Regions from separate parts of the Homo sapiens genome. Here regions 2 and 3 are each linked to region 1. Evidence: fine-mapped expression QTL. A gene starts in region 1. Each other region holds a variant in brackets. All regions are shown on one strand. Distances are between the middles of the regions. Region 1 holds the start of NFAM1 (NFAT activating protein with ITAM motif 1). Region 2 overlaps NFAM1 (NFAT activating protein with ITAM motif 1). Region 3 overlaps NFAM1 (NFAT activating protein with ITAM motif 1).

Region 1 (10,585 bases):
ACTGGGGAGGCCATGGTGAGCCCCTTGGCCTGCAAGGACCTGAGTCTCAGGGTGCAGAGGAATAGGTGGGGCCAGTGGCTGGGCCCAGAGAAGCCTGGTGGGCAGGACCCCCACGATCCACGACCCATGACTCACGACCGAAGATGAGCACTGAGTCCCCTCCCTCACTGTGCCCTCGAGCCCTGTCCCTAGGGCCAAAGCCTCACAGACCCTCCCTGAGGGGTCCCAGGTGCCACGCCCTGAGGCCATCATGGTACTGGATGTACCTTCCTATTGCTGTCTGGGAGGATGCTGAGCACCCAGGCGGGGGGGCTCGTGGAGGTTCAGCGTACTCCAGAGACTTGGCCAAAGGCTCCCAGGACCCAAATCCAGCCTGCTCAGACCTTACCAGGAGCCCAGGCGCCCCACTTGCCAATCTCATGTCCATACCCCTCCCCTCCCTCTCACCAGGCTCACCCCGTCCCTTTCTCTGGTTTCAGCCCCATCTGGGTCCTGTTGCCCACGTCCCCACTAGGGTATGGCCTTGCTTAGATCCACAAGGAGCAAGCAGAGGGTCAGATCCTGCCTCCGGGTCCACATTTCCCCAGGATGCCTGTGTCCTCCCTCCCATTCACTACACAGGGGGTCTCATTACCCTACCAACGCTGGAGAGGAGCCAGGGCTCAGGGAGGGCAGAGGAAGGGCAGAGGACGACTACCCAGCCCTTCCATCTCCTCCCCCAGGCGCCCCTCCTGTGGCATCGCGTCTCCACCCTGCTCAGAGCTTAATTCATCCTTGATTGTCACCATTTCCTGAGCATCTGCTGGGTGCTGGTCCCGTGCTGGGAGTCAAGGATTAGAAGCCACATGAGTCCGCACAGTACCTTTTGATTTTTTCAACCACTTAAAAATATAAAAACCATTCATAACTCACAAGCCATACAAGAGGCAGTGGGCTGGGTTTAGCCCACCGGCCGTGGTTTCAACTCTTGCTCTATCTATAGCAACAAAACGAACTTCAGCCATATCGTGGACTGGATCTATCTTAAAAAACATAATGCTCAGTGAAAGAAGCGGGTCACCGGAGAATACACACAGTATCCTTCAATTACACAAAGTTCACAAACAGGCAAAGCTAGTCCATATGGTTTCGGGATGTGTACTAATGATAAAACTACAAAGAAATGCCAGTAAGTGATCCCCCCACAAGCTGGGATGGGGGTACCTTTGGTGGGGCACGGAGCGGGGCAGTGTCTGTGGGGCGAGGGGAGTAGAAGGGGCTCTGAGGCACTGGGATGTTCTCATTCTTGACCTGGTGAGAGTCACACAGGACTTTGTTTTCTAGTGCTTACCACGCAGCACTGCGGTTTTTGTGCGATAGTTCACCATGACAGAGGAGACAGCAGTGAGACAGGACCCGCTGGGAGTGTGCCCGGACCCCTACCTGAGGGGCATTTGTGATCCACCCAACCACAATCTGCATCCCACTCCTGTGTCAGACTTCCCCTGCCGTCAAGCTGAGCCTCTCCCGGCCCTCCTGGCCCTGCCTTTTGGGCTCTCAGCCCTCATTCCCTCAGCCACCTCCCGCTCTGTCCCCACTCCGCGGGCAGCCTTTCCAGCACTCCCCTGCCTCTCCCCGCCCACCTCTGCCTGTGCCTCGAAAGTCCTTTATTGGGATTTAGACAAAGATGAAAAACAGAGGCTACTCCTGACAGAGGTCCGGAGCGGCGGGAAGGGAGGCAGGAGGTCTCAGCCGGGAGCAGGCAGGGGCTCCTGAACATCTTTTTTTATTATTATTACTTTTTTGAGACAGAGTCCTGCTCTGTCACCCAGGCTGGAGTTCAGTGGCACGATCTCAGCTCAGTGCAGCCTCTGCCTCCCAGGTTCAAGCAATTCTCCTGCCTCAGCCTCCTGAGTAGCTGGGATTACAGGCGCACACCACCTGGATCCAGAACAAACTTGTCTGGTAACTCCGGCCAAGGCTCACGGTCCCACCAGGCTGAGAGTGGGGCCTATGGCTTGTTCACGTCTGGGTCCCTCTGGTGCCTAGAACCGGTCCTTTTCAATGGATATGTGAGAAATAAATACAGCCCAGAGTTCTGGAAAGGCCACAGAGAGGGGACTGACATTTGCAGAGGACACTAAGGTGCAGAGAGGTTAAGTAATTGCCTGAGGTCACACAGCTGTCACCAGAAGAAGGCAGGCCTGGAACTCAGGTCTGTCCAGCCCCAAAGTCCTTGGGGAGGACTGAGGCCCATGGAAGCTGAGTTGCAGCTGCTCCTGGAAAAGCCAAGCCCCCAGCAATTCCTGTCTTGGGGAGACCACCAGTGGCTGCCTTTGAGAAAAGCAGGCTTTGCAGAGGGGTCAAGAAGCCAGAGGACAGGCCCAAGTCCCGGCTCAAGTGGGAGGAGGAGGATGGCTGGGAGCAGGAGCAGGTACCCAGGATGAGCTGGAGGCCGTGGGCTCACCAACTGCACCTCAAGTTTCCATGGCTCTGGCGAGGCTGGCAGGTGGCTGACACTCACTGAGGACTAATGACATACTGGGCACTCAGTCCTCAGGATGTGTTTAGGCAGGCAGTGTTATCACATCCATTTAACAGAGGAGACAATTGAGGCATAGCGATAGAAGTAATCTGCCCAGGGTGCCTGGGCAAGTAGCAGAGCTCAAATTCAAACTGGGCCGGGTGCGGTGGCTCACGCCTGTAATCCCAGCACTTTGGGAGGCCAAGGTGGGGGGATCACCTGAGGTCAGGAGTTCGAGACCAGCCTGGCCAACACGGTGAAAACCTGACTCTACTAAAAATACAGAAATTAGCCAGGCATGGTGGTGGGTGCCTGCAATCCCAGCTACTCAGGAGGCTGAGGCAGGAGAATCGCTTGAACCTGGGAGGCGGAGGTTGCAGTAAGCCGAGATGGTGCCACTGCACTCCAGCCTGGGCAACAGAGCGAGACTCCGTCTCAAAATAAATAAATAAATAAAAAATCAAACTGAAGATGAATGCCCCTGGCCTGTACTCCTAAGCCAGCATCCTCTCGCAAGTTCAGGGATACGATGCAGAATCAGGGACGCTGGCCTTCAGTGACACCCCTGTGGACACAGCTGAGGGATGCAAGCTGGGTTGGTACTGACAGGTGGCAGAGCTGGTTGCACCAGGCTGATGGTTAAGGCTGATGGTTACGGTCAGGGGAGGTTTGGAAGATGTGGGAGGGGCAAGATTCCTTCCAGCAAACCCTCAAAGCTCTGAGACGAGAAGGCAGGGGTGTGACATGGAGTGACAGATAGATGAAGGGGGATGCACAGGGGTAGGACAAAGAGCGGGTTGGGGGTTGGGCACAGTGGCTCACGCCTGTAATCCCAGCACTTTGGGAGGCCAAGGCGGGTGGATCACCTGAGGTCAGGAGTTCGAGACCAGCCTGGGCAACACTGTGAGTCTCTATCTCTACGAAAAAATTTAAAAAATAGCTGGGTGTGGTGGCACACGCTGTGGTTCCAGTTATTCGGGAGGCTGAGGTGGGAGGATCATTTGAGTGAGGGAGGCAGAGGTTGTAGTGAGCTGAGATTGCACCACTGCACTCCAGCCTGGTGGACGGAGCGAGACCCTGTCTCAAAAAAATAAAAACAGGACGGGCACAGTGGCTCACGCCTGTAATCCCAGCACTTTGGGAGGCTGAGGCGGGCAGATCACCTGCGGTCAGGAGTTCAAGACCAGCCTGGCCAACATGGCAAAACTCTGTCTCTACTAAAAATACAAAAATTAGCTGGGCATGGTGGTGGGCACCTGTAGTGCCAGCTACTCGTGAGGCTGAGGCAGGAGAATCACTTGAACCCAGGAGGCAGAGGTTGCCGTGAACCAAGATGGCGCCATTGCACTTCAGCCTGAGTGACAAGAGTGAAACTCTCAAAAAAAAAAAAAAAAAAAAAAATCATGGGTGGGGGTTTGTCTGCTGCTCCAAGGGACTCTAGGACACCGTAAGGGTGTTTTCACCTCTTGTGAAAGAACAGTTTCTCTTTTATGTAATGTTTGTTGCAATACCGGGTGGGAGGGGGTGGCACTGGGAATGTTTTGTTATAGTTGAGACTGTTACAAAAGAGCTTTTCCCCAGTAGCACCCCATAAAACCTCTTACTGCTCGGTTACCAGGGTGTGCTGGGTGTCTTTTGGGGAGGAGGAACCACACAAAGGGAAAGGATGGGAATTGGGGGGAAATTAAATTAAAAATGACTGTAGTTGAGACACATTGACACTAACAGGCTGCATTTCCGGGGTCTGGCCGTGTTTGCACCAACTGTCTGGGGTGTGGGGCGAGGCGTGCACAGGATTAAAGGAGATGGTGTCCTAGGGCTCTGGGCTGCAGCCTGGGGAGGTACACACAGGTCAGCCTTTGCCTCCCCAGGGTAAGTTTCCGGTGAAGAACATTCTTTACAAGTAAGAGGATCCTCTGAGCCTACTGGCCGAGGGGCCCAGCTTGGGGCTGAGGCTGGCCTGGGGCTGAGGCTGGCCTCTACTTACCGGCTAGGTCTTGAGCAAACGAACTGGCTTCCCTGGGCCTCCTTTTCCCTGTCCTTAAAATGGTGCAGGTGAGGACAATAGGAGCCCCAAGGGGTGCTGTGAGGGTGGCCAGTACGTGCCCTGCTAAGGGCTCCATAAAGCCTAATTTGTGGTCATGAGAGGGGGTGCAGCAGGACAGGGTGGGGGCAGCTCTTGAAAGCCCCATAAACTAAGAGAATAGAAAGGAAGGCACCCTGTCTCCACAGTGGAGGCCACCCCTTTGGCCAGAGGGAGGGTTGGCTGCTGCCCGGCCAAGGAGGGGCAGAGAGAATCTGGCAGAATTCACTGAGCCCTCGTGCTGGCAGCCCTGGAATGGGACCCTCCTGGGCCGTCCCTGGCCTGATGAACTGGCCCTGAGGCTACCTACCCCACAGCTTGGCTCGGATCCCGGCCACCCAGCTTCCAAGAAAGCCTGGAACCAGGAAAGGAGCGCCGCTGGCGTGGAAAGACACACTTGCATCCTAAAACACTTGGCCTCTGGTTGTGTTTCAGGAACTGGGAGGTGAGACCCTTTCTGGTGACTGACAGTTTTGTGCCTCTGGGCGCAGAGCCCTGTGGCTGGCCCTGGTATCCCCCCCTCCCCCCTCTCCCCGCTCTCCCTGGCCAATGCCAGCAACAACCCAGAGGGTAGCCCCACCACTTGCCAGGTTCAACGCAGTGTCCCCCGCAGCAGCCACGTGAGGTTCCTCGGATGGGGAGCTGTCCCTCCCCCCTGCCCCGCCCCTGGCCCCAGCCACACAGCGCCCACCCTCCTTGTTTAAGGGCCAGGAGGCCAGACTGCTGGGGCAAAGCTGTCACAGCAGCGAGGGAGAGAGCGCTGTCCCCCTCCCCTTCAAAAGCCACCTTGGCAAGGCATTAGCTAAACATCTTCTCGGTCCCAGAAGGCTTCCCCTGTGAAGTCTGCAGCGTTCAAACGACAACCAGCAAATCCCCAGAGACAGGTCCCTGGGAATTAGCTGCGCCGGGCGGGATGAAAGCCGCTCTGATGTTCTGGAGCGAGAGAGTAGAGAGAAGGAGGAAGACAGACACTACCTGCCAGTCGCAGGGTCCCGGGCAGCAGCAGCACGCCAAGGAGGAGCCAGGGGGCTGCGGGGAGCCCAGGAGGGCGTGGGAGGCCTGGCAGGGCCCGCCACCTCACAGGCTGGTTCTCCATCTGGGGGCCTGCTTGTCTGCGGCGACTCTTTAGTTCACAGGAGGGGACGGCCGGCGCTGACAGCTTCCCCTTTGCTTTCCCCACGAAGCTCCTCCCTGGCAGCCCCTGACCTTCCGCTCAGAAGCAAAGCTGGAACAGCCCAGCAGGGTGGCCGCCAGATGAGGAACCTGGCACTGAGACTGGTCCAGGCCACACAACCAGAAGAAGAGCTGGAGACGGGACCCAAGCCTCCCCACTCCAACCCCTGGTGGGCTTCACCCTGTCTCGGCCCCTTTCCAGCAGGGGCCCCGTCCAGGAGACACTGGTAACTGTGCAGAGGGATCATGGGATTTCCATGAGTGACTTCGGGCCTTGGTTTAGCCTCTCACTTCTGAAACACTTTTAAAACGACCACAAGCATGTTCACACAAACTTCTCTAAAATATTCTGAGAATCCCTTAATAATGTGTTTACCAAAGGTAGGTTTTTTGGTGAGGGGTGGTAGGGAGGCTGGGGTGAAGGGCAGGAGCCTCATGTTCCCAGCCCTAGAGAGGGCCAAACACCCAGGGCAGGTGAAAGGCAGGCTGCCCATCATTCACCCAGCGAGAACCTCTGTGGGTCCCCTGCAGAGGCCCAGGAGACGCCTCCTCTCTGGTCCATCTCTAACGTCAGCTCCTCCCTGTGGCTGCCCTAAAGCTTAGCTCACTCGGCCTCCCAACTGTGAGACCCTCGAACTGCTTCCCCATTGGCTGCAGGTCACAGCCCCTGCTCTCACTTCTAGCAGCATCAGCCGGGGACAGGAATTGTTTGCTGCCGGGACCCCCTTCCCCAGCAGACTGGGAGCCCCTCACCCTTGGCACCCACACATCTGCCTGCGTGTCTGGAGTGGCAGAGGAAAGGGGCTGGGGTGTGGTGATGGCTGGTGGAGCTGGAGGCACCTGGTACATGGAAGACGCAGGCGGGAAGGTGGCTGAGTTTCAGCGCATGCTGAGCGCTTACCTCCCTTCTCTGCAGGTGTCCCTTCACTCACCAGATAAATGTGATGATCCCAGTTGTACAAAAGAGAAGACCTCGGCCCCAGGAGGCAAAACAACATGCCTAGGATCAGGGCAGGTCTGTGGGGCGGGCATTTGAACTGCCAGTGGTATGATGTCCGAGCCTTCTCCCACCCTGCTACTGCCTGCTCAGGTGTGTCCAGCTGCAGCCCCCGGTGACGGCATCATGAGATCCATTTCAGTTCTTTGCACACATGCTTTTCCCTGGGCTGCTCCAAACATGAACAGTGAAAGCCTAAAGACGTTTCCACCAATGCCACGAGCACTGGGAGGCTGGCAAGAGCAGGGGCCGCCCACCAGGGGAGGAAGACATATGAACAGGAGAAGTTTCCTACCGCGCAGGGGGCAGGCGGGGACCCCAGTGTTATTGACTGTTGATCCATCACAGTGATACATGCTCACATATGTCACAGTGAGATGCAGACCCGCTGCTTCACGCTATTCCTGGCTCCTGGGAGTAGCAGGTTGTCTAAGCACCTTGATGCCATGGTGATAGACCTCGTGTCAATGCCTCAGGGTACACGGGGAGCATTGGAAAAGCATCGGTCTGTGCCTCTACAAGTCTCATTACGACTTGGCACTGGGAGGCAGCTGAATGCCAAACTGCCTCGGAACAAGGGAGCCTGCTCTTCCAGCCCTGGTGCCGCCTCCGCTCCTGCCCCTGTGCCAGCTCACTGACCCTACCTCTCAGCCTGTCACGGTGCCCCCCACACCCCAACTCTGTACCTCGGACTCCCGGGAGTTCTGCCGCCTCTGAGTCTGGGTCTAGCCTGCTGCACACCTGGTTTCCACGCTTGCCTGCCTGAGCTGCCTGTCTTCCTCCCCTCTCCTTCTTGAGCCTGGCCCAGGGGGTGCAGGAATGGACGGATGGGTGAGCATAAGGCAGGGAGAAGCCTTCCTCCAGGCTTGATATGAAGGCAGGTGCCCAACACCACGCTGGTGCACAAGAGGCCTCAAGGGAAGGGGTAGCCTCTGGGAGGCAGGGTGGGAGGAGGCGTGCATACTCCCCAGGCAGGCCCTGGGCTGTGGAGCGCAGACATGACTGGACAAGAAGCAGCTGAGGGTCCCAGCTCATTGCCCAGTTTCTGAGACGCTCTGCAGCCACGCAGCCTCCTGGGGAGAGGCAGGGACGCACCTTGGCAAGGAGCCCAGCAGCCCTGGCTGCGCTGTCGGGGCCTCGTGTCTGGCCCTGATCCTCCTCGGGAGCCAGGGGGATAGAAATAAAACCGCAGCGCATCCAGGAGCCTCATTTCTACCAAAACTTTCTAGCACCTCTCATGTGCTTCCTCTCCTGTGCCCTCAGCCAGAGCTGTGAATAAACAGTAAAGGCCCCAAAGGCTGAAGGCGGAGCAGAGGAATGAGGAGGCTCTGTGGGTGTCCCAGGGGCAGCTTCAGTGGCACAGCCTTCGAGCTAGGCCTTGGCAGCTGAATTTGCAGGTGAGGTCCCTGGGGACCACACGTCTCAGCCACTGGCTTTTGCCCAGACCTCCGTCCATTCCCCGTTTATCCGTGCATCTATGCCTCACAGTATACTGAACACCTGCCCTGCCCTGGGCCCTGGCCTCACGGAGGCTGTAGAAGTGAAAGAGCCTAGCCTCCCTGGGAAGCCTAGGGGCACGGCAACCTCAGCAGAGTGAAGCAATAATAGAGCAGTTCCGGGAAGCTTCCAAGCGCCTGACACTGCTCCAGGGGACCTGCTCTCCTTGCCAGTTTAATCCTCACTGCAGCCCTATGGGGCAGGCACTCTAATCACCTCCATTGTACAGATGAGGAAACTGAGGAACAGGGAGGTTAAAGTAATTTCTGAGTGGCAGCCCTGAAGGAGGTGGAAGCTGGGTGGGGAAATGGGGGAGCCCAGGTGTCCCCTGCAGTCCCCAGGGGCCTCCTCGACACCAAGACTAAGGCTTTCCAAATGAGACCACAATTACTGGCCTCTGTTTTCTTTTTCTTTTCTTTCTTTTTTTTTTTTTTTTGAGACAGAATTTTTCTCTTGTTGCCCAGGCTGGAGTGCAATGGCGCGATCTCGGCTCACCGTAAACTCTGCCTCCCGGGTTCAAGTGATTCTCCTGCCTCAGCCTCCCGAGTAGCTGGGATTACAGGCATGTGCCACCACGCCCGGCTAATTTTGTATTTTTAGTAGAGATGGCATTTCTTCATGTTGGTCAGGCTGGTCTCGAACTCCCAACCTCAGGTGATCCGCCCACCTCAGCCTCCCAAAGTGCTGCGATTATAGGTGTGAGCCACTTTGCCCAGCTGGTCTCTGTTTTCAGTTTAGTTCCACAAACACTTATTATGTGCCTACTGCGTGCCAGGCATTGGGCAGACAAAACATAAGTCATGGTTTTGCCCTCAAGGCGCTCCCTGTCCAGGGAGAAAAACAGATCCCCTACCCACGACCACCTCCAAGATTTCCTTTTCTTCTTCTTTTTTTTTTTTTTTTTTTTTGAGACAGGCTCAAAAAAGACTCCACTAGGCTGGAGTGCAGTGGCATGATCTCAGCTCACTGAAATCTCTGCCTTGCGGGTTCAAGTGATTCTCCCGCCTCAGCCTTCCGAGTAGTTGGGATTACAGGCGCCTGCCACCACACCTGGCTAATTTTTGTATTTTTAGTAGAGATAGGGTTTTACCATGTTGGCCAGGCTGGTCTCGAACTCCTGACCTCAGGTGATCTGCCCGCCTTGGCCTCCCGAAGTGCTGGGACTACAGGCGTGAGCCACCGCACCCGGCCTCAATCCAGGATTTTCAAATGCCCCAGCCAGCAAGTGGCAGCTGAGAGGCCTCCAGCCGGGACACAGTGAGGTCCTGAGCTCTTCATGGTTCCTTTCTGCACAGGAAGCAGAAGTGCCGTGGGAAGGAGATCCCTCTGCTCCCCGCTGCGGCTGCGAAAATCACTTCCTTCCTCCCCAAAGACTCCAGCACCAAGAGGAGCTGAGCCGACCAGCAGGAGGGACCCCTCAGAATGACCCTCTGAGCTGGCTTCACTGAGGCAAAAAGGGTTCCAGGGTACTCAGGGGCCGATCCACCCTCTCTCTCAAACACCCTCACTATCAAAAAGGGCAGCCTCCATCCTAGGAGCAGCCGGGTTTACCTCTGGGGCCGTCTTGTGCCTCGCAGTGGCCCTGCAGCTGGGTGGTGCTGACCCCACCAGAGGCAGGCAGACCCACCTGGAGGCCATCTGCCCGCAGGCTGCCCGGGCTGGAAGCCTGGCCTGGCTTGTCTCCAGAATCCCCTCTCAGTTCCAGCTGCTTGTATTTTTGGCTCTTAAGCATTTGTTTGATGCCAGACACAGTTCTAAAGGCTTTTCTTGTACTTCAGCCCTCATAGAAACCTTGTATGGGAGGTGTTATGACTGCTCCTGCTTCGCAGATGAGGAAACTGGAGTTCAGAGAACACAAGCCACTTGCCCAAGGCCACACAGCGAAGACGCAGTGGAACAAGGGCTCCAGCTCCCGGGACCTGGCTTTAACCACTGCGCTCTCCTGCAATTCACCTGGTCCTTTAATCAGGGCAGATATTATACGCCTCAGCTGACATATTTAGTGAGGGAGAAAAACAGTGACTCACCTGCTTGAGGTCACAGAGGGGACCCGGGCTTTTCTACTGGACACATACCATGGTCCCCCTGCTATGCTCAGTTTCTGGGAGGCAGCAAGGAGCTAGTGCCAACTCCCCAACCCCGCCACACCAAAAGGAATCTTCAAGATCTGGAAGAAACAAAAAACAAAGGTGGCATGATTTTTTCTTTTTGTCTTTTTTTTTTTTTTTTTCTGAGATGGAGTCTCGCTCCGTCACCCAGGCTGGAGTGCAGTGGTGCGATCTTGGCTCACTGCAACCTCCTCCTCCCAGGTTCAAGTGATTCTCCTGTCTCA
Region 2 (10,585 bases), 50 kb before region 1:
GAGGCTGCCGGCCTTCCAGAGCCTGCACTTCTTATTGCCTTGCTTCTCCTGGTGTTGTGGGTGCAGCAACAGTCTGCCTCAATTTTCACATATGTAAAATGGGTCATATACTAATTAAAGATCACTTCCTGGAAATAAAAAAAAAAATTATCCCTTTTTCACTAAGAACAGGTGTTGAATCAACAGCAAAGGAAAAGACTCCTTTATTTTTTGAACAAACAGCTCCTAAGCCCCTACTGTGAGTCAGGCACAGACAAAGAGAGACAAATGAGGTGTTTGCCATGCTTGGGAAACACGGGAATTCTGGGGGGAGATGGATGTGTGTGAACTGATTCAGTTTGAAGAGGTCAAAGAAATGAGAGGATTCAGTAAACTGCTTGGTGTGGGAGGGGGCTTTAAGGAAGACTTCACAGTGGAGGTAGCATTTTTTTTTTTTTTTGAGATGGAGTTTTACTCTGTGGCTGATATCTGTGGTATGTGCCACCACACCCGGCTAATTTTTGTATTTTTAGTAGAGATGGGGTTTTGCCATGTTGGCTAGGCTGGTCTCCGACTCCTGACGTGAGGTGATCTGCCTGCCTTGGCCTCCCAAAGTGGTGGGATTGTAGGCGTGAGCCACTGTGCCCAGCTGGAGGTAGCATTTGAGCAGGAATTCCTCAGGCAAAGAATAGGGTGCAGGTCCTCAGGGCAGGGAGAATGGTAGGAGCCCAGACTCAGAGGTGGGGAGCTCAGCATCTTGGGGAACAGCAGCCATAGATGGAAGCATGAATGGAGCTGGGGTGACTTTGGGCCAGTAGGAGCCAATCAGAAATGAGCTGGTGGACTCCATGAAGACAGGACTGTCCATTTCTTATTCCAGCCACAGCACTGGGCTTGACACATAGTTGGAGCGGGACAAATGTTGTTAAAAGAATGAAGGATGGCCAGGTGTGGTGGCTCACACCTGTAATCCCAGCAATTTGGGAGGCTGAGGCAGGCGGATCACTTGAGGTCAGGAGTTTGAGACCATCCTGGCCAACGTGGTGAAACCCTGTCTCTACTAAAAATACAAAAAATTAGCCAGGCGTGGTGGCACTCATCTGTGATCCCAGCTACTTGGGAAGCTGAGGCAGGAGAATTGCTTGAACCTGGGAGACAGAGGTTGCAGTGAGCCAAGATTGCACCACAGCACTCCAGCCTGGGTGATAGGAGGGAAACCCTGTCTCAAAAAAAAAAAAAAAAAAAAAAAAAAAAAAAAGCCAAGCATAGTGGCTCACACCTGTAATCCCAGCATTTTGGGAGGCCGAGGTAGGTGGATTTCTTGAAGTCAGGAGTTTGAGACCAGCCTGGCCAATATGGTGAAACCCCATCTCCACTAAAAATACAAAAAAAATTAGCTGGGCCTGGTGGCACGTGCCTGTAGTCCCAGCTACTCGGGAGGCTGGGGCAGAAGAATTGCTTGAACCCAGGAGGTGGAGATTGCAGTGTGCCCAGATCACACCACTGCACTCCAGCCTGGGCCTCACAGAGAGACTCCATCTCAAAAAAAAAAAAAGAAAGAAAGAAAGAAGAAAAGAAAAAAAAAAGTGAAGGAGTGGTAGGAGTGGTAAGAGCCCTGAATGTGAGACTAAGGGGTTGAGCCCCGATCCTATGGACAGTGGAAACCACTGTGAGTTTTGGTATAGGGTGTGAGGTAGGGGTCATGTAGAGGTTTGGCTCTCCCAGCACCAATTGTTGAAAAGACTGTTCCCCATTGAATGATGGTGGCCCCCTTGTTGGAATGAATTGACCATTACCATAAGGTATGGCAGGCTTTTGAGAGAGGAATCATGTGGTCAGATATGTATTATAGAAAGATCAGGTGAGACTTGTTTGGACTGGGAATGGCTGGGAGGAGGAGGGGTTGGAGGGAGGCTCTTATGGGTGGACTTGATGGCAGGGGGACAGAAGGGGCATCTGGGGAGAAGAGACATCCCTGGATCAGCCCATGGCGGGCAGCAAGGTACAGGGCTATGTCCTGAGCCAAGGCCAGGATCTGGCCCACTTGGGCCTGTGGAACTCACTGGGGGATGGGGATGGGGCAGTCAAGGGAGAGACAGAGAAAATGCCCCCACTCCTCGGCCCCTCAAGGTCCTCAAAGTGGTAAAATAAAACCCACTCCAGATATAGCCATTTGCAAAGTCAGTTTTCAGGTAATGAAAGGATTGTAATGGAAAAACAATGCCAATTACAGCAGCATTATCCGGGATTATAAAGCTTCTAAGAGGCGGCTCACACCTCCAGGCATGCTGTGCCTGGGAATTTCCAGGGTAGACTTGGGATCAGAGCATACAGGCTGCCAGGATCCAGGCCTCACAGTGGGCGTGGGCTGCTGGGGAGGCCCAACCCCTGGGGCTCTATGGATCTGCCTCCATTTCCCCAAAGAGATAGAATACCGGGAGGCAGGAGGACCCCCCCAACTTCACACACACACACACACACACACACACACACACACACTTCTGAGAAATTGGATAAGAGGAATGTGAGGCTGCCAGCCCATCTCTGAAGGAAACCTGTTCTTCTGTGGGCTTCCCTACTCCTGGGGACACCACATCCCTCCATGGCTCTTTCTGCCTCCCCCATCACCTCCCCTACCTGGCCTTGGGGACAGCAGGACTGCACACATGCCCTTGGGGACAGCAGGACTGCACACACGCCGAGGCAGCCCAGCGTTGCTCCTCCTGGGCTGTGTGACCTGGAGCCAGTCAGCTGTTCTGAGTGGTAGCTTCTGCTTCGATAAAATGGGGAGATCACCCCTGCCCACCATCACAGACCTATTTTCAGGATTAAATGAAATATTCTAGATAAAGAGTCCGAGGAATAGAAACCAGTCCAACCTCGGGGCCTGGCGATTTGGTGGTGACTGTTAGAACAGTGAACTTCTATGCACTGGGTCCCAGGAATCCCTCCTCATTTCCCATAGGGAAAGTTTTGCAGATGTGTGTGTGTACAAGGATGTTCCCTGCAGCCCCTTATGTGAGGTTGAAAAATCATAAACAACTGAAAAGGCCTTCGATAGGGGGCCTGATTAAATTAGGATCCATCTGTCCTGCAGGATCCTTTGCTGTAATTGGAGTCTGGCAGCTCCTGTGTGCTGTCTCCGGCAGATCCCACCACGTGGGGCTGCATCAACAAAGCAAGTGCAAACAACACCTACAAAATGAATGCATCGCGGCTGTTCGGAAGCCCGCACGGCGCTCCACATTTTACATGTTCACAGGTAGACACCTAGATGCCATAAAAGCAGCGACGAAGAAAACACTCCCAAATGACCCGATTGGTTACTACTGGGGAGGGGACGGGTATGGAGGCTGGGAGGTGGCAGGTGCATCAGAGGAGTTTCACTTTGCTGTAGTTTTAATGTTTCACTGTAACATATGCTTCTGTCACCCACATATGTCACCTCCAGACACACACAAAACACACGCCAACACCAAGTTCAGAGAGTCTGGCCTGACCCGCGCTCAGTCAAGGCTGAGGCCATCATTCTGACCACAGGTCAGGGAAGGGAGACTGGGGAAGCCCCCTCAGGTGGACAAATGACATCCCCTGGCATTGCAAGGAATGGAGTGACGCCACTCAGCCTGGCTGGACTGAGCCAACGGCCCACCTCTCCTGCATAAGCTGTCTGCCAAGAAAACTATTGAACTACATAAAAATCCATCCCTGAAATCCCAGAGGCATCTTTAGAATGGAGCATGGACTTTACATTAGAATGTGCTTTAACAAAAAAAAAAAGAGAGAGAGAGAGAAAGAAAAAGGAAAAGCAGGTTTTGCCTGTAACTTGAGTTCAGGTTTGTGACACTGGGTGGCCAAAGAGCACTGCCTACCCTGGCCGAGGCCACCAGGCTCAGTTCCTGCAATATTGGCTGTGAAGGGAACCCCAGCCACACCGGGTTCAGCGCAGAACCAGCACATGTTCCCATGGAAACTCTGCTGCCAGAATCCCCTGGAAATGTTTGCTGAGGAGGGGCCACCGTTTACCGCACCCACTGCAAGTTCTGGACTGGTGGTAGAGGCTGGGCACAGACTGACCTCCAGAAGAAGTCCATGGGCCCTCTGCTAGGGTGGCACCAGACTTCCCTGGTCCCACAGGACAGCCAGTGGCCTCCTAGCTTAGTTCTGGGCCCCCGCCTGCAAGCACACGTGGCAAGGAGGGCTTCAGCAGGCTCGCAGAACCGAGTGGCAAGGCCCCTGCTCCCAGAAGCTGGTTTCCCAGGATGATTTTCTCAAGCAAGTGCTGACAGAGCAGGAGTCAAGCGGGGGTGGGGTTGGAGGCTGAAACCCATTGAAGGGGTCAACTTCCTAGAGGCAGGCAGGGATGCCTGGGGGTGCCAGACGTGGCTGAGATGTTTCTGCAGAGGGGAGGTTGGGAAGACCTAGGAGGGCAGGGCAGGCTGGGCCGGGAGAGATGGTGGGAAATCCCACCAGGTCAGGGGCCAGTGGGCAGAGGGAAGCATCAGCTGAGACCCAGAGACAGGGCTGCCCTGCTGCGGTAGGGCCCAGGGGCAGGGGCCTGCAGGGGCTGCCTGGGGCTTCCCTTCCCC[A/G]CCCTAACTCCAGTCCCCACTCAGGACTGCTCACATCCGTCCGTCCTGGAAGGTCCACAGCTCCCCTTCACCTAGGCCTCACCTACTCCACTCAAGCCACCCCATCCCCCTTAGCTTTTCCCCTCCAGGCCCATTCATTCAGCTCCTGCTAAGCCAGCACCCTCCTTCCCTCACCTCTCTGCTTACCTTGCTCCCACCCCCAGCTCTGGGCAGCCCTGGCCTGTCCATCTGATCGTGCTACCCCGTAGGCACTCCTTAAAGGCATGGCTGCAGAGAGCCTGGGCCCAGCTCCCAGGGAGGCCTGCCTCTCACTTAGACTCCTCTGTACTGCCCCAGAAGCCTATTCCTTCTGAAGGACGAGTCTTGAAGGAAATGCACACCCACTGAGCTTCTGCCTGAGCCAGGGAGTCCCCTTCTGTCCTTTCTGAGACACTGAGTAGTGTTTGTTTGTTTGTTTATTTGGACAGAGCGTGCTCTGTAGCCCAGGCTGGTGTGCAGTGGTGCCACTTCGGCTCACTGCAACCTCTGTCTCCCAGGTTCAAGAGATTCTCCTGCCTTAGCCTCTCGAGTAGCTGGGACTACAGGTGCGTGCCACCACACCAGGCTAATTTTTGTATTTTTAGTAGAGACGGGGTTTCACCACGTTGGCCAGGCTGGTCTCAAACTCCTGGCCTCAAGTGATCCACCCGCCTCGGCCTCCCAACATGCTGGGATTACAGGCATAAGCCACTACGCCTGGCCTGAGCTGTCTTGACTGTCACTGCAAACTGAGGCTCAGGTGGCCAGTGACTTGCCCAAGTCCACAAGGCTGTGGGAGGTGGAGCAGGGATTCAAGGGAGGCCCTGAGGCCACCCAGCCTGGGTGGGTCTCAAAAGCAATTTTCTTCTCTTCCCTCCTCCACCCATTCATAGTGGAAAGCAAGCCTGCACCCCAGGAGCTCCCATTCATACCCTCTCTGTCCCCTCTCTGTTCTTCCTCCTCCCGCCTGCCCCATGCACCTCCCACCCTGAAGTTCCCTGCCACCCCTCGCCCTGTGCCAGCTTGTCTCTGCAGGCTCTCAGTCCTGGGGGCTGGAGAACAGGTGCTCAGTCCTCTTTGCTGCCCACAGAAGTCTCAGAACATTCTTGCCCCACCCTCCCTTGGGCCAAAGCCCTTTAGGGTCCCGTCCTTTCATGCTGTGCTCTCCTCCTCCTCCTCCTCCTCCCTGCCTCTCTCCTTGCTCACTGAAGACCTCAGCACCCACTGCCTCCCAGCCTTGCCCTGAACCAAGCACAGACGACCACCACGCTGGCAATGTCTCTGTCCACCAGAGGGGTGATGGGTCAGCCCCCAAGAACCTCCTACGCCACAGGGAGGAGTTGGAATTTTATTCCAAGTGAGGCAAAAACCATGCAAGGTATAGAGCAGGGGAGGCCAAGGCCAGGTGTGGGTTTAATCGGGGTCTGTCGGTGGCAGGGCAGCTGCAGGGAGGCCGTGTTGGTGATGCCTGGGCCAGGGCACAGTGGTAAAGTTTAACCCAGGCTCCCCTGTCTACCCCTGAAAAAGACTGGAAAATGCTGAGTCCCAGCCAAGGGTCCAGGGTCTAGGAGCTGAGGTCAGAGAGGCCCAGGAGGTGGGGGAGGCAGGCCCAGTGAGGTGGCCCTCTCCTGGTCTTGCTGGCTTCGGTTTTCCCAGGGGAGCTCACTGCACCCTGAGCGGCATTGTCCCCCATTGCCCTGACCCTTGCCCCCACCTCCTTGGCTGGTGGAGCCAGGAGCCTGGGAGGCCCCTGTGCACACCTGGCAGCTTCACCTCCCCAAACAGGCCCGGAGTTCATTCAAATCCAGCCTCTGGGAGCAGGGGCCTTGCCACTCGGTTATGTGAGCCTGCTAAAGCCCTCCTTGCCATGTGTGCTTGCAGGCGGGGGCCCAGAACCAAGTTGGGAGGCCACTGGCTGTCCTGTGGGACCAGAGAAGTCTGGTGCCACCCTAGCAGGGCCAAGGGACTTCTTCTGGACGTCAGTCTGTGCCCAGCCTCTACCACCAGCTTTCCCTTCCCTGCAGGGAGGGGCATGACCTGCAGAACCAAAGGTGCTTCTGTGAGCCAGTAGCCCAGTGCTGCTTGGGGGCAGGGGCGGGGCCTGTGCCTTGGGTTCCCCCCCCTCCCTGGGCACATTTGGGGTTGGGGCAGCCCACACGGTGGGGTGGGAAGATTGACCTGCCCATTTTACAAATGAGCAAAGGTGGGAGAACTCAGGGAGACATGGGGGAGCAGAGGGAGGAAGCAGAGCCCAACAGCCCGGGGCACCCGGACCCCAGCCACTGCCTGCCTGTGGATGGGTTTCTGGCCACGGTGCAGGGCTACTGCGAGGAGGAAATGAGGGTGATGTGGGCACCTGAAACAGCAGAAATGGCTCAGGGCCAGGCACTGGGGAGCCACTGTCCCCATGGGGCTTGAGCTTCTGCCTCAGAGGGACCTTCCGGCTGCCATTGAGGGTCCCAGCACCAAACCCCACAGCTGGACCACTTGGGACCTCAATCCACAGGGGGCCAGGGCTGCGGCCTATGGCAGATAAAGATAGAGGAGGAGGGCTGGATGAAGCCACAGGTGGTGGGCACAGGATAGGCCAGACAGAAGGGACTTTGGGGGACTCCACCTTGGGTAGAAGGAGGGACAGCTGAGGTCCTGTGGTGGAGAAGGCCTGGAGCAGAGGGTGACCAAGGAGATGACAGAGTGCACGTACAGGGCCAGGCCAATGGGAGTGGGAACCCTTGGGAGAGGGAGCTTCAGGCCATTCATTCAGTTCCTGTTTAGCCAGCACCCTCCTCCCCTCATCTGTCCCTCTGCCCTCACCCCAACATGCCAGAATCTCCTTCCTCTCCAGCTTGTACCCAAGCCCTCTCTGCTCCATGCCCCCAGCCTGCTGACCACCTCTCAGCCATGTCCTGGGCCTCCAGATCTGTCCCTGATCCTAGTCTTGCCTCTGAGGGGTCCATCATCCTTGTCTGTCCCCCAGACCTCCCACGCCAGCCCCTGCTCCCACCCTGCCTGGCTGCCTCGTGCCTCTGGCCCAGCTGGGTAGGTAGGGATTTGCATAGCTGCTCCCCAGCTCCTCCATACCTCGGCTCCCCACACAGCACTGCTAGGCGCCCCTGCAGGGTCCTCCCTCAGCTCAGAGGCTGCCCTACTGGCTGAGGTGCAGGCTGGTGCCAAGAGAGCATGCTGCTCTGTCAGCATGAGGCAGTGAGCAGGGCTCTGGGCAAGGGTGGCATCCAGGAAAGCCCTTGAAGACTGAGGGGCGCTTTGCTGGTTGGGCCAAGGGAGGAAGGGCCTGCCTGGCAGAAGGAACAGCCTGGGCAAAGGCCCCAAGATGGGAAAGCCTTGGTGGTTGGGGCATAGAATGGGGGGGCAGTGGGGCCGGCCAAGACAGGAAGGGCCTTGAATGTGAGGGTGAAATGATGGGGTGTCCCTGGGGGCCTTACTCCCAACTCAGATCAAGTCCTTTGGTGGCAGGGGCTGCCCCGGTCCTCTGACCCAGGGCAAGCTCTATGAGCGGTGGAGCCCATCCTAGAGATTTTCATAGACCAGGTTAAGTTCGCCATCATCTTCGAATCTATGCGGTCTCTCCTGGATAGAAAAGAAGAAAGGGAGGGAAGGAGAGAAAGAGAGAGAATGACCATTAAGAATGAACTTGCACTAATTTAGTTTTAGCCAGAGGGCAACAGATCACTTCCTGTGTAGCTTTGATGGGGGGCCTGCCCTCTGTCTCCAAGCCCACCTCCCCAGCCTCTTCCCCCACCATGCTGCCCCCACCCCTGCCCATTGCCCTCCAGCCACATGGGCCTGCCCTTCCAGCCTCAGAGCTTCCCCCACAGCTCTGCCCTCTGCCTTCTGCCCTATGTGTGGGATGCGCCTCCTCCCACAGACACACCTGTTCCATGACTGCCCCCTACTCACTCTGCCTGCGGGCTCATCATAGGGTCCCAGGGACCCCCTCCCTCCCTCCCCACCCTGGCTGGTCCCTCCCAGAAGAACACCCCTCACAACAGGGCTACAAATGCCTCTGTGTGTCCATGGGGTCAGCGACCTATTCCTGCAGACTATGGCTCCCAGAGGGTAGGGACATGCCTAGTTCTCCTGTCCAGCACCCCAGGGCCTGGCACAGGGTGGGCACTGCCGGAGATGTCCCTGCTTTCACTCAGGGTCTAGTTGAGGGCTGAGTATAGAAAGGGCTTTGAGAACAGGCGATTTAACAAATAGTGCCAGCCCGAGCCAGAGAAGGCCAAGTGCCAGGCGCCCGCACTCCCTGACAGATGTTCCAAGAGGCCTGTGGGCTCCTGTTCTGGCTGAACAACGCCTCACGCTTGACGGTGCTGGAAGCTCTGGTGCAGATGTTATTCAGCTTGGAACACATTTGAATTCAGAGGCAGTTGGTATTGCAGGAAAACACTGCTCATCCACTTTACAGATGAGCAAACAGGTTTAAGAGAGAAAGTATGGGCCGGGCGCGGTGCCTCACACCTTTAATCCCAGCACTTTGGGAGGCTGAGGTGGGTGAATCATGAGGTCAGGAGTTCGAGACCAGCCTGGCCAACATGGTGAAAACCTGTCTGTACTAAAAACACAAAAAATTAGCTGGGCACAGGGGCGGGCGCCTGTAATCCCAGCTACTCGGGAGGCTGAGGCAGGAGAATTGCTTGAACCTGAGAAGTGGAGGTTGCAGTGAGCTGAGATCGCGCCACTGCACTCTGGCCTGGGTGATGGAGCAAGACTCTGTCTCAAAACAAAAACAAAAACAAACAAACACACACACACACACACACACACACACACAAAACAAAAACAAAAAAAAAGAGAGAAAGTATGATTGGGTAATATGCCTGAGGCCCTATCATGACAATCACAGAACCCTGACCAGGCCAGCCCAGCTTCTACCAGCTCACACTCTAGCTCCAGACTTTAGCCAACACCAACCTGGGGGCAGCTGGAAGCCTAACACCCCTGTCTGACTGACCATGTGGACACTGTGCCCAGTGATAGTTACAGTGGCTCATAGTGCATGGGCACAGCTGGGTCCCAGGCAGCTCTCTCAGTACATTCTACCCTCACTGAACATCTATGAGGTGGGTACTGTTAGGTTGCTCAATCTGCACACAAGGAGATTCAGACACAGAGAAGTCAGACACCTCGGCCAGGGCTGCACAGTGGCTAAGGGACAGAGCAGGAACTCAAACGCACCAGTCCTCTTAACCAGCAGGCCAGCTGCCACCAGGAGATGGCTGGGATTCCACAGCAGGTGGCTCACTTCCATGTCCCATTTGCCCCCCCACTTCACCAGTGATGGGAGGGTCAGATGGAGCAAGAAGCCAGGCTTGGTGCCCCAGCGCCTGTGTACCTGGGAGAGGGGGCTCTGCTTGGCGGTGGGTGAGCTGCCATCCTCATTCTCGATGCAGGCATAGACCTCGGTCTCGCGGCGCTGCAGAGCCTACAGGAAACGGGGTGCCAGGATCAGGGGCAAGTGTGTAGAGGGGCAGTCCCTGGCCCCAGCAGCCAGCCCCCTGCCTGTTACACACCCCACCGTGGGAGCCCAGGGGAGGGTGAAGCCCAGCCACACCTTTGCACCTGCCACCCCCTTTCCCAGAGTCACCTTTCCCCTTCCCTGCCTGTAAAGGGCTGACCCCTCTCTGTTCTCGGCCACCTCCCTAACCTCCCTTAAGGACCTCCAGTAGAGCCTTGTATTCCACCTGGAGGGTTCTATCCAGGCTTCCACCTGGCTGGCAAGAGAAAGGGCCAGGCCTCCTCCTGCTGTCCCTGCCTGTCCCTAGGCTCTTAAGGGCTTGGCAGCCAGCAGCCCCCTGCATGATACCTGTGGCCACTGCTCCAATAGGATGCCCCCATGACCTCTGCCTTCACCCCCCTGTTCAAAGCCCCGGCCCCTGTGAGGGTCCTCCCACCCACCCATACCCTCTAGCTCTCCCCAACCCCCACCCCAGCCTGTATTCAAGGATAACCCAGGCACCCACTGGGGTCACACTCCC
Region 3 (10,585 bases), 31 kb before region 1:
GAGACAGAGGTTGAAGTGAGCTGAGATTGCACCGTTGCACTCCAGCCTGGGCGACAAAAGCAAGACTCTGTCTCAAAAAAAAATAATAATAAATATAAATAATAAAAATAAAATAAAATAATGAGGATTGGAAAGGAAAAAGTAAAACTTGCATTATTCATAGATGACATGACTGGGTTCGTAGAAAATCCAAAGGAAGGCCAGGCGCGGTGGCTCACACCTGTAATCCCAGCACTTTGGGAGGCTGAGGTGGGCGGACCACGAGGTCAGGAGATCGAGACCATCCTGGCTAACATGGTGAAACCCCGTCTCTACTAAAAATACAAAAAAATTAGCCGGGCGCAGTGGCGGGCACCTGTAGTCCCAGCTACTTGGGAGGCTGAGGCAAGAGAATGGCATGAACCTGGGAGGCAGAGCTTGCAGTGAGCCAAGATCGTGCCACTGCACTCCAGCCTGGGCGACAGAGCGAGACTCTGCTCAAAAAAAAAAAAAAAAGAAAGAAAAGAAGAAAAGTAAAGAAAGTGAAAATGGGGACAAAACCTTTACCCTAAAACCTTATCAAGAGGATTGATAAAATATAACAGGTGTAAAGTCCTGCCATGATCCCTGGCACATAGTAGGTACACAACAAATGGCTCTTGATACCATCATCGTTGTGACTGTCACTCTTCTCCGCCCAGGCCCAATCCCAGTTGGTAGACCCTTATGTCAAGGGCTTGGCAAAGTTCTATGACCTCTACTCTCCAAGCTGGCCTGCAACTCTGCAGGCAGTTAGGTCTGTTCACCTCACTCCAGAGAAGTCGGCCTGCATCCTAGAGGCTGTGAAACCCAGGCAAAAAGAAGCTCTGCTCAAAAGAGCTCTTCCGTTAAACATAATCTCATAGAAAGATATTTATTCACGTGGAAAGATGTTCATGAAAAAAATAGCTGTATTGCTCCAATTAAAAAAGAAGTATGTGTGAGTGCGTATGGGTTTCTTTGTATATATTTATAGAAAAAATACTGGAAAATATATTAGTCAATGTTCTTAGTATTTATCCTGGAAGAAGATGGGATTAGGATGCTGGTTATTTTCTTCTTTTATATATATATATATATATCTCACATATGTGTATGCTGGGGGAGAGGGAAAGTGAGAGTGAGAGGGAGAGAGAGAAATATTTTCATCTAACAGTTGACACCAGAATCCCTGGTAGGGAAAATACCACTATGAGATGCTGGGAGACAGGAGAGAGTATGAGGAAGTCTCCGGCCACGTGCAAAACCGTGGCTGACAGAAACTCCCCAGGATGGGGAAGCTGAAAGCCCTTTGAGAACCATCACATTCCACTTGGAACTGTTGGCACTGCCCCACAGGGACATTTCCTTGGCCTCGCTGCCACCCGCCCCATCCTCAGCAGACAAGGCTGTATCCTGGGCGTCCTCTGTGTGGTGTTCTGTGGCGTTATTAGGGTGAGTCAATGTTGTGGGAACAGAAACGACAGCACGTACGAGCAGAACCCAAGCACCATCGCAGCCAGGGGGCGTGCACCTGGGGGGCGTGCACCTGGGGAGCGTGCACCTGGGAACCTGCAGGGCCCCAGAAGGGCTGTGTGCCTTCCAGGCGTGGAGTGGGGAGCCCACCTGGCGGTGCCAGATCTCACGAGATGGGGACCCCAGCTGGCACTGGGTGGCATTTCTTCTTCCCTTGCTCTACTTGGAGCATATGTTGTTCGTGGAGCCGAAAGGAACGTAGCAAAAAGAGTGTTCCCAGCCCTCCCCGGCCCCAGCCGCTGGGCAGAGGGCTGCATGCTGGCTGGCTGGCCAGGCTGGGGCAGCCTGGCCTCCTCGGCCCCTACGCTGCACCCACCTTCCACTTCCTGGAGATGCACCCACATCTCCAGGAAAATTGTTTCAGAAAATGCCTACAACACAGCAGAGAGTGGAACAAACAGGGTCCCAACGCATGTCTGCGCTGTGATTGTGACCATGTAAGATAATATCTGCATGTGCCAGGAGGGGAGAGAGCAAATCATTACAAATCACTGATGTGTTAAGGGCGTGGGATGGCGCCTGACCTCTTCCTCTTTTTGTGATTTTTGTTGTTTATACAATAAAAACAGGAGGAAGTGGTAAGAGCTGTTTGGTCAGATGAAGGAGCTTTCTTCATTCTTCGCCAACTTGTGCCGTCACTACCCCTTGTCCCAGAATGAGGATCCATGCCAAGGAGGGGAACAGGGCATGGGGGGCACCTGACATTCGTATGCCTTCCAGGAGCCCTGCACGTGTCATCTCTTTTCAGCTTCAGAGAAATTCCATGAGGTAAGAATTGTTATCCCCATTTTATAGATGAGGAACTTGAGGCTAGGAGAGTCCACACAGCTGGTACAAGACTGAGCCAGACAGACCCTGGTACAAGACAGACTCTGCCTAAGGCCTGAAAGAGGTGGAGGGAGCCGGGGGCCCCGGGACTCACTGTGTAGACAGATTCTGAAGGATGCTGCTTGGGGCTGCTGGCAGATCTTGGATCTGGGCACTTCCTGGTGGGGTCCTTCCCTGGACCCCGCATCCGCTTCTGTAGGGAGAAAGGAGTCAGGGCCAGGGATGAGTGGCTCTCGTCTTCCTCCCCGCACAGACCCCCCAGGGGAAAGGATGGCAGATTGTCATGAGGTCACACAGAGATTCATCACTCAGTCCCTCCCACTCACCCTCTCCAGGGAAACATGGCAAATGCCTACAAGACCTGCATCAAGCCATTCCTGCACCTGGAGACACAGGAAATGGAAAAGGCCCACACGAGGTGATGTCCCTGGACAGAGCACCTGGCTGGTAGGGACCCAAGCTACTGGGACCAGTGCCAGTGGGGCAGGGCCCCAGGGACCGAGCCAGCAGCCATGGGTGGGCCCCTAGTGGTGCCAGCCAGGTCCAGTGTCCAGTCTTCCTCTGCTGTCACTGGCTCTGGCCTCGAGCGAGCCAGTTCCCCTCTGGGCCTTGGTTTTATTTATTATTATTATTATTATTATTATTATTATTATTATTATTATTATTTGAGATGGAGTCTCACTCTGTTGCCCAGGCTGGGGTGCAATGGTGCAATCTCAGCTTACTGCAACCTCTGCCTCCCGGGTTCAAGCGATTCTCCCGCCTCAGCCTCCTGAGCAGCTGGGACTACGGGCATGTGTGCCACCACGCCCGGCTAATTTTGTATTTTTAGTAGAGATGAGGTGTCACCATGTTGGACAGGCTGGTCTCGAACTCCTGACCTCAGGTGATCCACCGCCTTGGCGTCCCAAAATGCTGGGATTACAGGTGTGAGCCACTGCACCCGGCCATGGGTCTTGGTTTCTTCAGCAATAACCCTCTTTTGTGAGACTGATGCAAAGTTACAATGAGGGCACAAGGAGTAGGTGCCTGGTGCTTAGGAGGTGCTGCTTAGAAGGCCCTTGCTCAACCAACACACACTTGATAGCACTGGCAAGCCAGGCAGTGTGAGGAGGTGGGCACCGTCCCTACCCTCCTGGAGTTTAGGGACCAGTGAAGAGATGGAGGATGAACCAGTGGTTTTGCCGAAACATGGTATGTGGGTTGATTGCCAGGCACAGAGCCTCTGGCACATGAGGAGGAAACCAATGCCCCACTGGGCAGAAGCGATATTGAAGGTGAAATCCTGAGGGCAAGAAGTTCATTTAGCAAAAGAGGGAGGAGGGAGCCTCAGGTAGAGGGAACAGCAGGTGCCAAGGCCTGGAGGTCTGGAGGCACGTGGAGAAGGTCAGCATAGGCCAGGCACGGTGGCTCATGCCTGTAATCCCAGCACTTTGGGACTCGGAGGCCGAGTCGGGTGGATCACCTGAGATCAG[G/A]AGTTTGAGACCAGCCTGGCCAACATGGCAACACCCCATCTCTACTAAAAATATAAAAACTAGCTGGGCATGGTTGTGGGCGCCTGTAATCCCAGCTACTCGGGAGGGTGAGGCAGGAGAATCGCTTGAACCCAGGGGGCGGAGGTTGCAGTAAATCGAGATCACACCATTGCACTCCAGCCTGGGAGACAGAGCGAGATCCCATCTCAAAAAAAAAAAAAAAAAGAAAGAAAGAAAAAAAGAGAGAGAGAGAGAAGGTCAGTGTGTGGCCCGAGAGAGGAGCCTGCCTGGGAGGGGCAGGCGTGGCGTGGCCGTGCTGGCTGCATGAAGAGCATAGGAAACATCTGAGGGCTCGAAGTGGGAGCGCCAGGGTCAGAGCTGTGCTGGAGAAAGCTCCCGCTGGTCACAGTGGAGGCTGGGCCGGGCCTGCTGGGAAGGTGAAGGCTGGGGAGTCACGAGGCGGTACAGGCAGCCCTCTGGAGGCAGAGGGAGGTGGCCTGGACATCCCCCCTCATTGCAGGCACCACACGGCCACTGCTGACAGTGGAGCCACAACTGCCTCATCTCAGGGCAGAAGCTAATTAAAAACCCTGGCCTCCTGCCAAACCCCAGCCCATTTACTGCGGGATTAGCTGCTGAGAGCTACTTAACTCGCAGGCAGAAGCCGGCGCCACCCCCAGTCACAGCACATAATGGCTCAGAGCATGGAGCCAGGTAGGGTTCTCAACACCTGACCTGCCTTCTCTCACGCGCCCTCCACAAACCGCAGGTGAATCTTTCCATCCTCTCTGTTCTGTACATGAGGGAGTGAAGGCTCAGAGAAGGCAGGTGACTTGCCGAGGCCACGCAGCCAGGAAGTGGCAGAGGCAAGATTTGAATCCAGGTCTGTGTTTCACCAAGATATTGACGAGACAGGAGCTGGAGTTTTGACTCCTCTGCTTAGTTAGAACGTGTGAGCCTCACAGACACAGAGCAGTGCTGGCGTCTGTGTAGCACTTGACAGTTTACGAAGTCTGCTGGGACTTGTCCTTATTTTCATTTAATTCTCATAACAGCCAGAGGAGGTGGGCATGGAATTGCCCGTTTAACAGACAGGGGGCCAGGTGCAGTGGTTCATGTCTGTAATACTAGCACTTTGGGAAGCCAAGGTGGGTGGATCACTTGAGGTCGGGAGTTCGAGACCAGCCTGGCCAACATAGTGAAACCCCATCTCTACTAAAAATACAAAAATTAGCCATGTGTGGTGGTGAGCACCTGTAGTCCCAGCTACTCGGGAGGCTGAGGCAGAGAATTGCTTGAACCTGGGAGGTGGAGGTTGCAGTGAGCTGAGATTGCACCATTGCACTCCAGCCTGGGCAAAAAGAGTGAGACTCTATCTCAAAAACAAAACAAAACAAAAACAGGAGGGGGAAGCTGAGGCTTGTCCAGCTGGTAAAAGGCTGTCCTTGGATCAAACCCAGATGTGTGTCCTCAAATCCAGGGCTGCCTCCCCTGCACCACCTGCTTCTTGAGGGCACCGTCACAGTCAGAGGTAGTGGTCTGCCCCAGTGCACCTCAGTGCCTCCTCTTGTCAAGGCAGCTGGGGACCTAGTGTCTGTCTCTTCGCTGAGCTGGCCGACCTGGACACCACCAGGGCTGAGGATGTGAGCTCATGGGCAGTGGGTCTCCCGCGAGGCTGACCTGGGCTCAGCTCTTTGGACCTGCCGGGGCTGGAAAGCAAGGTCCCTGGAGCTCAGTTAGCTCTTGGTGTCCCTCCCTGGCCCTCCTACGCGCTGGGCCTGGGCTGGGCATGGAAGACCCTGTGGTGAACAAGACCCACGCCTGGCCTCGAGGCTCTGTCAGTGAGACTGATGGGGTTGCCAGAGAAGTGAGTGCCACTGGGGATCCCAAGAAGGGGCCCCAAGTCTGCAGGGGACTGAAGCAGACGTCTCAGGGCCATCTTGCGCTGTCTTCTGAAGACACGGGAGGAACTTCAAAGCTCTCCCAGTCTAAGAAGGTATCTTAGACATTGCGAACAGCTCGGGGGCAGGAGTGTCATGGATGCACAGAAGAATGGACAGTTAGACAGAAAGGAGGAGATGAGCCACAGGCTGGCACGGGTGGGGCCACGAAAGGCCAAATGCCATGGTGTCTACCCGAAGGGCAGTGGGGGCCACCAGGGAAGTGGCTGCAGTTGCATTGTATAAACCTCCCTCTGCTGCCACAGATGCGGGGTGGACTGTAGGTTGGGGCTGGCAAGGGGAGGAGGCAGGATCTCCAGGAGAGAGGCCTCCTGGGGGTGCTGGGGAGGCTGGGCCGGGGCAAGGGGTCCCGTGGAGGAGGGAGGGAGCCTTCTTGAAAACTCACATTACATTATGGGGGTGGGGCTGCTTTGCTCCCTGCCCATCCCTGCCCACTGAGCGCTCTGTCCTCGGGGCCAACATTTGCCTTTCAACTGTGATTTTCAGATGAATCACGAGTGTGGCTTCTCCCAACACGCCCAGCTCTCTGTGGTCCAAGTCTCCCCTCCCTAGTAGATGGTGGTGGGACAGGGAGTCACCAGGCCTGGGCTGAGATCCAGCTGTGCACACCAGGGGTGCTGCCATCAGCAGCTCAGGAAGCCTGTTGGGCCTCAGCTTCCTGCTCTGTAAAATGGGAGCAATAATGTGGCCTTGCCCACCTCACATCCTGGCCACTTCTGCCTTATCTTCCAGGTCCTCGCATGCATTTATCCTGTCATTCCTTCCACAAGCATGCACTGCGTGCCAGGCTCCCCCAGGTGCTGGGGACACTAAGTCCCCCGCCTACAGGGGCTATGCTATGGCAGGACAGACAGCATAAAGACAGACGCCAGGTTGTGACAGAAGCCAGGGTGTGGCAGCAGAGACCTATATTCCAGGAGAGGGTGATGGAGCCCAGCCTGGGACGCCTAGGAAGCCCCGGGGAAGGGGCTGGATCCGGGACAGACTGAGTGCAGGGCTTGCTGAGGGATGGATGTGGGGAGAGAGAAGAGCCGAGCACAACTCCAAGGCTTGGGCCTGAGCATCTGGAGCACGTGTGCTGGGACGCAGAGGACTCGGGGACTGAGCACTGCTCTGGACGCATGAGGTGGCGGCACCCTCAGGCCCCCACGTGGGGCTGTGGACCATGGTCTGGAGCTTGGGGAGGGGTCTGAGCAGCAGCATCTGTGGACAGGGAATGCCACCCGCAGAGCAGAAACTTTGCTGCAGGAGCACACACAGAGCGCGGAAGGGCTCGGAGGAAGGGGCCCGGGATGTGCCAGAATTTAGAGGTCACCAAGAGGGGGGTGACCCAGCAAAGCTGCCTATGGGGTGGGACAGAACAAGGAGGGCATGTTGTCCTGGTACCAAGAGGCGGAGTGTGCTGTGAGGCGGGAGGCCTGCTGTGCCCAATGCCATGAGAGGATGAGGATGAGGACGGGCCAGCCGCAGGGAGCGCCTGCTCTGGGAACACCACTTTGACCCCTCAAGTCAGGCAGGAGCCCCCAAACCTACTCTCATGGCAGGAATCATGGCGATTGCTGCCTTCTCAAGAGAGAGACCTCTCCTGGTACTCAAAGCGCCTCAGACCCACACCGGTCCCTCTGTGCCTTCTTTTTTTTTTTTTTTTTTTTTTGAGATGGAGTTTTGCTCTGTCACCCAGGCTGGAGTGCAGTAGCGCAATCCAGGCTCACTGCATCCTCCGCCTCCCAGGTTTAAGCAATTCTCTGCCTCAGCCTCCCGAGTAACTGGGATTACAGGAGCCTACCACCATGCCCGGCTAATTTTTTTTTTGTATTTTTAGTAGAGACAGGGTTTCACCATCTTGGCCAGGCTGATCTTGAACTCCTGACCTTGTGACCACCCACCTCGGACTCCCAAAGTGTTGGGATTATAGTCGTGAGCCACCACGCCCGGCCCCCTCTGTGCCTTCTACAACCCCATGACACAGCTCCTCTGTTTGGCATCCCCACTGGGGAAACCGAAGCCTGGAGCACCCAGCTCAAGCTCGCAGAGGTTGGTAAGTGGCAGAGCTGGAACTGAACGAAGGCCCAACTCTGTGCTTTTAAGCCCCCTGCTGATTTCTACTTCCTTTCTTCCTGAACAGGTCATGACAGCATAACAGCTGATCTCCCCAGCTAAGAGTTTAGCTTGCTGTGTTCCCAGCCTCTGTACAGGGCCTGACACATAGTAGGTGCTCAGCTCTGTCGCCCAGGCTGGAGTGCAGTGGTGCAATCTCGGCTCATTGCAACCTCCGCCTCTCGGCTAATTTGTATTTTTAGTACAGGTGGGGGTTTGCCATGTTGGCCAGGCTGGTCTTGAACTCCCGACCTCAGGTGATCAGCCAACCTGAGCCTCCCAAAGTGCTGGGATTATAGGCGTGAGCCACTGTACCCAGCCTGAATGAATGAATTTAATGACAGGTGTGAAAGGGCCCTATAAATGGTAAGCCCTTCAGCAAATGTTTATTGAGGGCCTACTATGTCAGGGGACCTGTGCTAGAGGCTGGGGCTTGGGCAGGGAACAGGCCGAGAGGCACCCGGCCTCACACAGCTGGCCTTGACGAAGAGATGGAGTAAGCTCAGGGGACCTACAGATGACGAGGGCAGAGGCAAAAGAGGTGTCAGGGAAGAAAGCCATGGTGTCAGAGAGGGCCTCTCTGAGCTGGGTACATGGGAGCTGGATCCAGAAAGCAAAGAAGGAGATCTCTGGGAGGGATCCCAGGTGCCGAAATACAGAGAACAAGGAGGGCCTGGGAAGCCTCTGCTGTTGAAGGGCCTGCGGGCAGGGCTGACTGTGCCACCTGTGGGTCATCCATTCCTGGGCTCTACCCCCATCCCTCCTGCCCCAGCCCCTCCGGGCAGACTTCATGCATCACCAGTTCTTACCACCCTCCAGCTCCCATCTTCCCGGGGGTGTGAGCTCCGTGCCCTCCCTGCTGGCCTTTGCAGAAGTCAGGTGCAGGCATTGCCCCGGGAGGCAATGCCATTCTTCCAGACTTGCCCCAGTGGAGTCGCACACTCTGCTCTTTGTCCTCACTGTCCCCAAAGCTGCCAACCGCGGTTCGGGTCCACCCTCTGCCACTTCTGGTTGGTAGTTTCCAGCTTCAATTCATTTATCCACCACTGCAGGTGCTCCCGGGTCCTCTGTGCCTGGAGGGAGCCTCTTTCTCCTGGACTCTCTCCTTACCCCATCCTGCCGCTGCCATCAGGGGCATCCACAGCGAACCAGGGGCTCCCAGGGCTGCTTTAGCAATGCAAACGCAGCAGCTGCTCTGGCCTCCGGGTTCTCTTTCCCTTCCAGCCCAGGCTCTCACATCAGCCGTTCTCCCCAGGTACAGAGGGTGTGTGGGCAGCAGAAAGCTTCTGCTGTGTGTCAGGCACCCAACTGGTGCTTCAGAAGTGCTCTCCTGCAGATCTCCTGATGTCAGGAGTTTGAGACCAGCCTGGCCAACATGGTGAAACCCAGTCTCTACTAAAAATACAAAATTAGCCAGGCGTGGTATCGCACGTCTGTAATCCCAGCTACTTGGGAGGCTGAGGCAGGAGAATCACTTGAATCTGAGAGGCGGAGGTGCAGTGAGTCAAGGTCGCACCATTGTACTCCAGCCTAGGCAAAGAGTAAAACTCCATCTCAAAAAAAAAAAAAAAAAAAAGTGCTCTCCTTCCATGTTCACTTAGTGGGCAGGGTCTACCCTCCTTATCCCATTTCCAGAGGAGGAAACTGAGGCTCAGAGAGGATCCAAACCTGACAAGAGGGCTTGCTTTCACCCTGTTGGCACTTAGCCTAGTGATGGCACACACGAGACACTTTGCAGACATTCCTGGAAGCACAGGCAGGGTGGTGAGAGGAGGAAGAGGAAGGCAGGAGTCACTGAGGCCATCCTGGAGGGGAGGGAGCAGGGACCAGAACTCAAGCCCAGGGCTCTGAGCTTTGTCCCCTCCTTTACTAATACTGTGATCCAGTTTCTACGGTCCGGTCCCATCTTTGTAGGGCAGGAGCTGACGTTGCTCAGCAAATGGGGGGCTCAAGGTTAAGATCTCGCCTGGCCCCGTTCTGTTCCTTGCCTACTGTGTTTCGTGTACACAGAGGGCACTTGTGTGGGTCACTCCTGTAAGCCTGGGTGGGGGTCCGCAGGCGGGGGGAGTCCCTTGTCACCTGTGCCTGAAGCCCAGTTTCTGTGTCCACGCCCCAGCTCCTCCCCTGGCCTCATTTCGAGTGCCTGGGGACTGCTCGGTAGTGAACAAATCGAGAGATACCCTACTTGCTATCATCATGGGAAAAGCCGAAGCAGGGAGGGAGGGCATATATTGAGGGCGAGAGTCGGGGGCGTGCAAGAAAGGCCCAGGCCGGGCACATGGCAGGTGCATACTCGTGCTGGCTTGGGGAGGGAGGCAGCCTGAAGCCAGTGGGTCTCCATCCTAACCCTGGGCTCATGAAAGCTGAAGGAAGTGTTTCCCACCCATCTCGGGTCTTCTTGGCTCAGCTCATCCCTCTGGCTGGGCTGGAGTCAAGGCGGAGCACAGAGCCCTCCTGGACTTCACAGTGGTACCCAAGGCCTGCGACTCACTTCACCCTGAAGCTCATTAACAGGGCAAGGTCAAAGTAGGACCATTCGCGCCAGTGTCAGACCCATGGGAAGGAGGGGAGCCAGCATCGTGGCTGAGGCCCTGACCCAGACGTTGGCTCACAGAAGGCAGGAAATGCAGCCCCTGGGGCTCCCGGGGGTGAAAGGCGCCAAGCTCATGCTTTTTTCGTACCTCAGAGCCT

What was found. PIP is the estimated chance that this variant, and not a neighbour inherited with it, causes the effect.
Region 2: its variant is fine-mapped to the expression of NFAM1 in whole blood (TOPMed, PIP above 0.99).
Region 3: its variant is fine-mapped to the expression of NFAM1 in whole blood (TOPMed, PIP above 0.99).

The regions. Positions count from the first base shown.
Region 1 is chr22:42,426,676-42,437,260 of GRCh38, forward strand. It overlaps NFAM1 (NFAT activating protein with ITAM motif 1), which reads right to left and starts at 5,728. Exons shown (of 6, transcript NM_145912.8): 1 at 5,562-5,728. The coding sequence starts at 5,682.
Region 2 is chr22:42,377,047-42,387,631 of GRCh38, forward strand. NFAM1 (NFAT activating protein with ITAM motif 1) reads right to left here. Exons shown (of 6, transcript NM_145912.8): 5 at 9,943-10,032; 6 at 3,361-8,174. The coding sequence ends at 8,115. Among named protein-coding and RNA genes, the nearest start is that of LINC01315, 13 kb to the left of the region's middle. The variant A/G (reference allele first, on the strand shown) is at 4,569.
Region 3 is chr22:42,395,403-42,405,987 of GRCh38, forward strand. It overlaps NFAM1 (NFAT activating protein with ITAM motif 1), which reads right to left. Exons shown (of 6, transcript NM_145912.8): 4 at 2,456-2,554. Among named protein-coding and RNA genes, the nearest start is that of LINC01315, 31 kb to the left of the region's middle. RefSeq lists a silencer at 1,421-1,715. The variant G/A (reference allele first, on the strand shown) is at 3,837.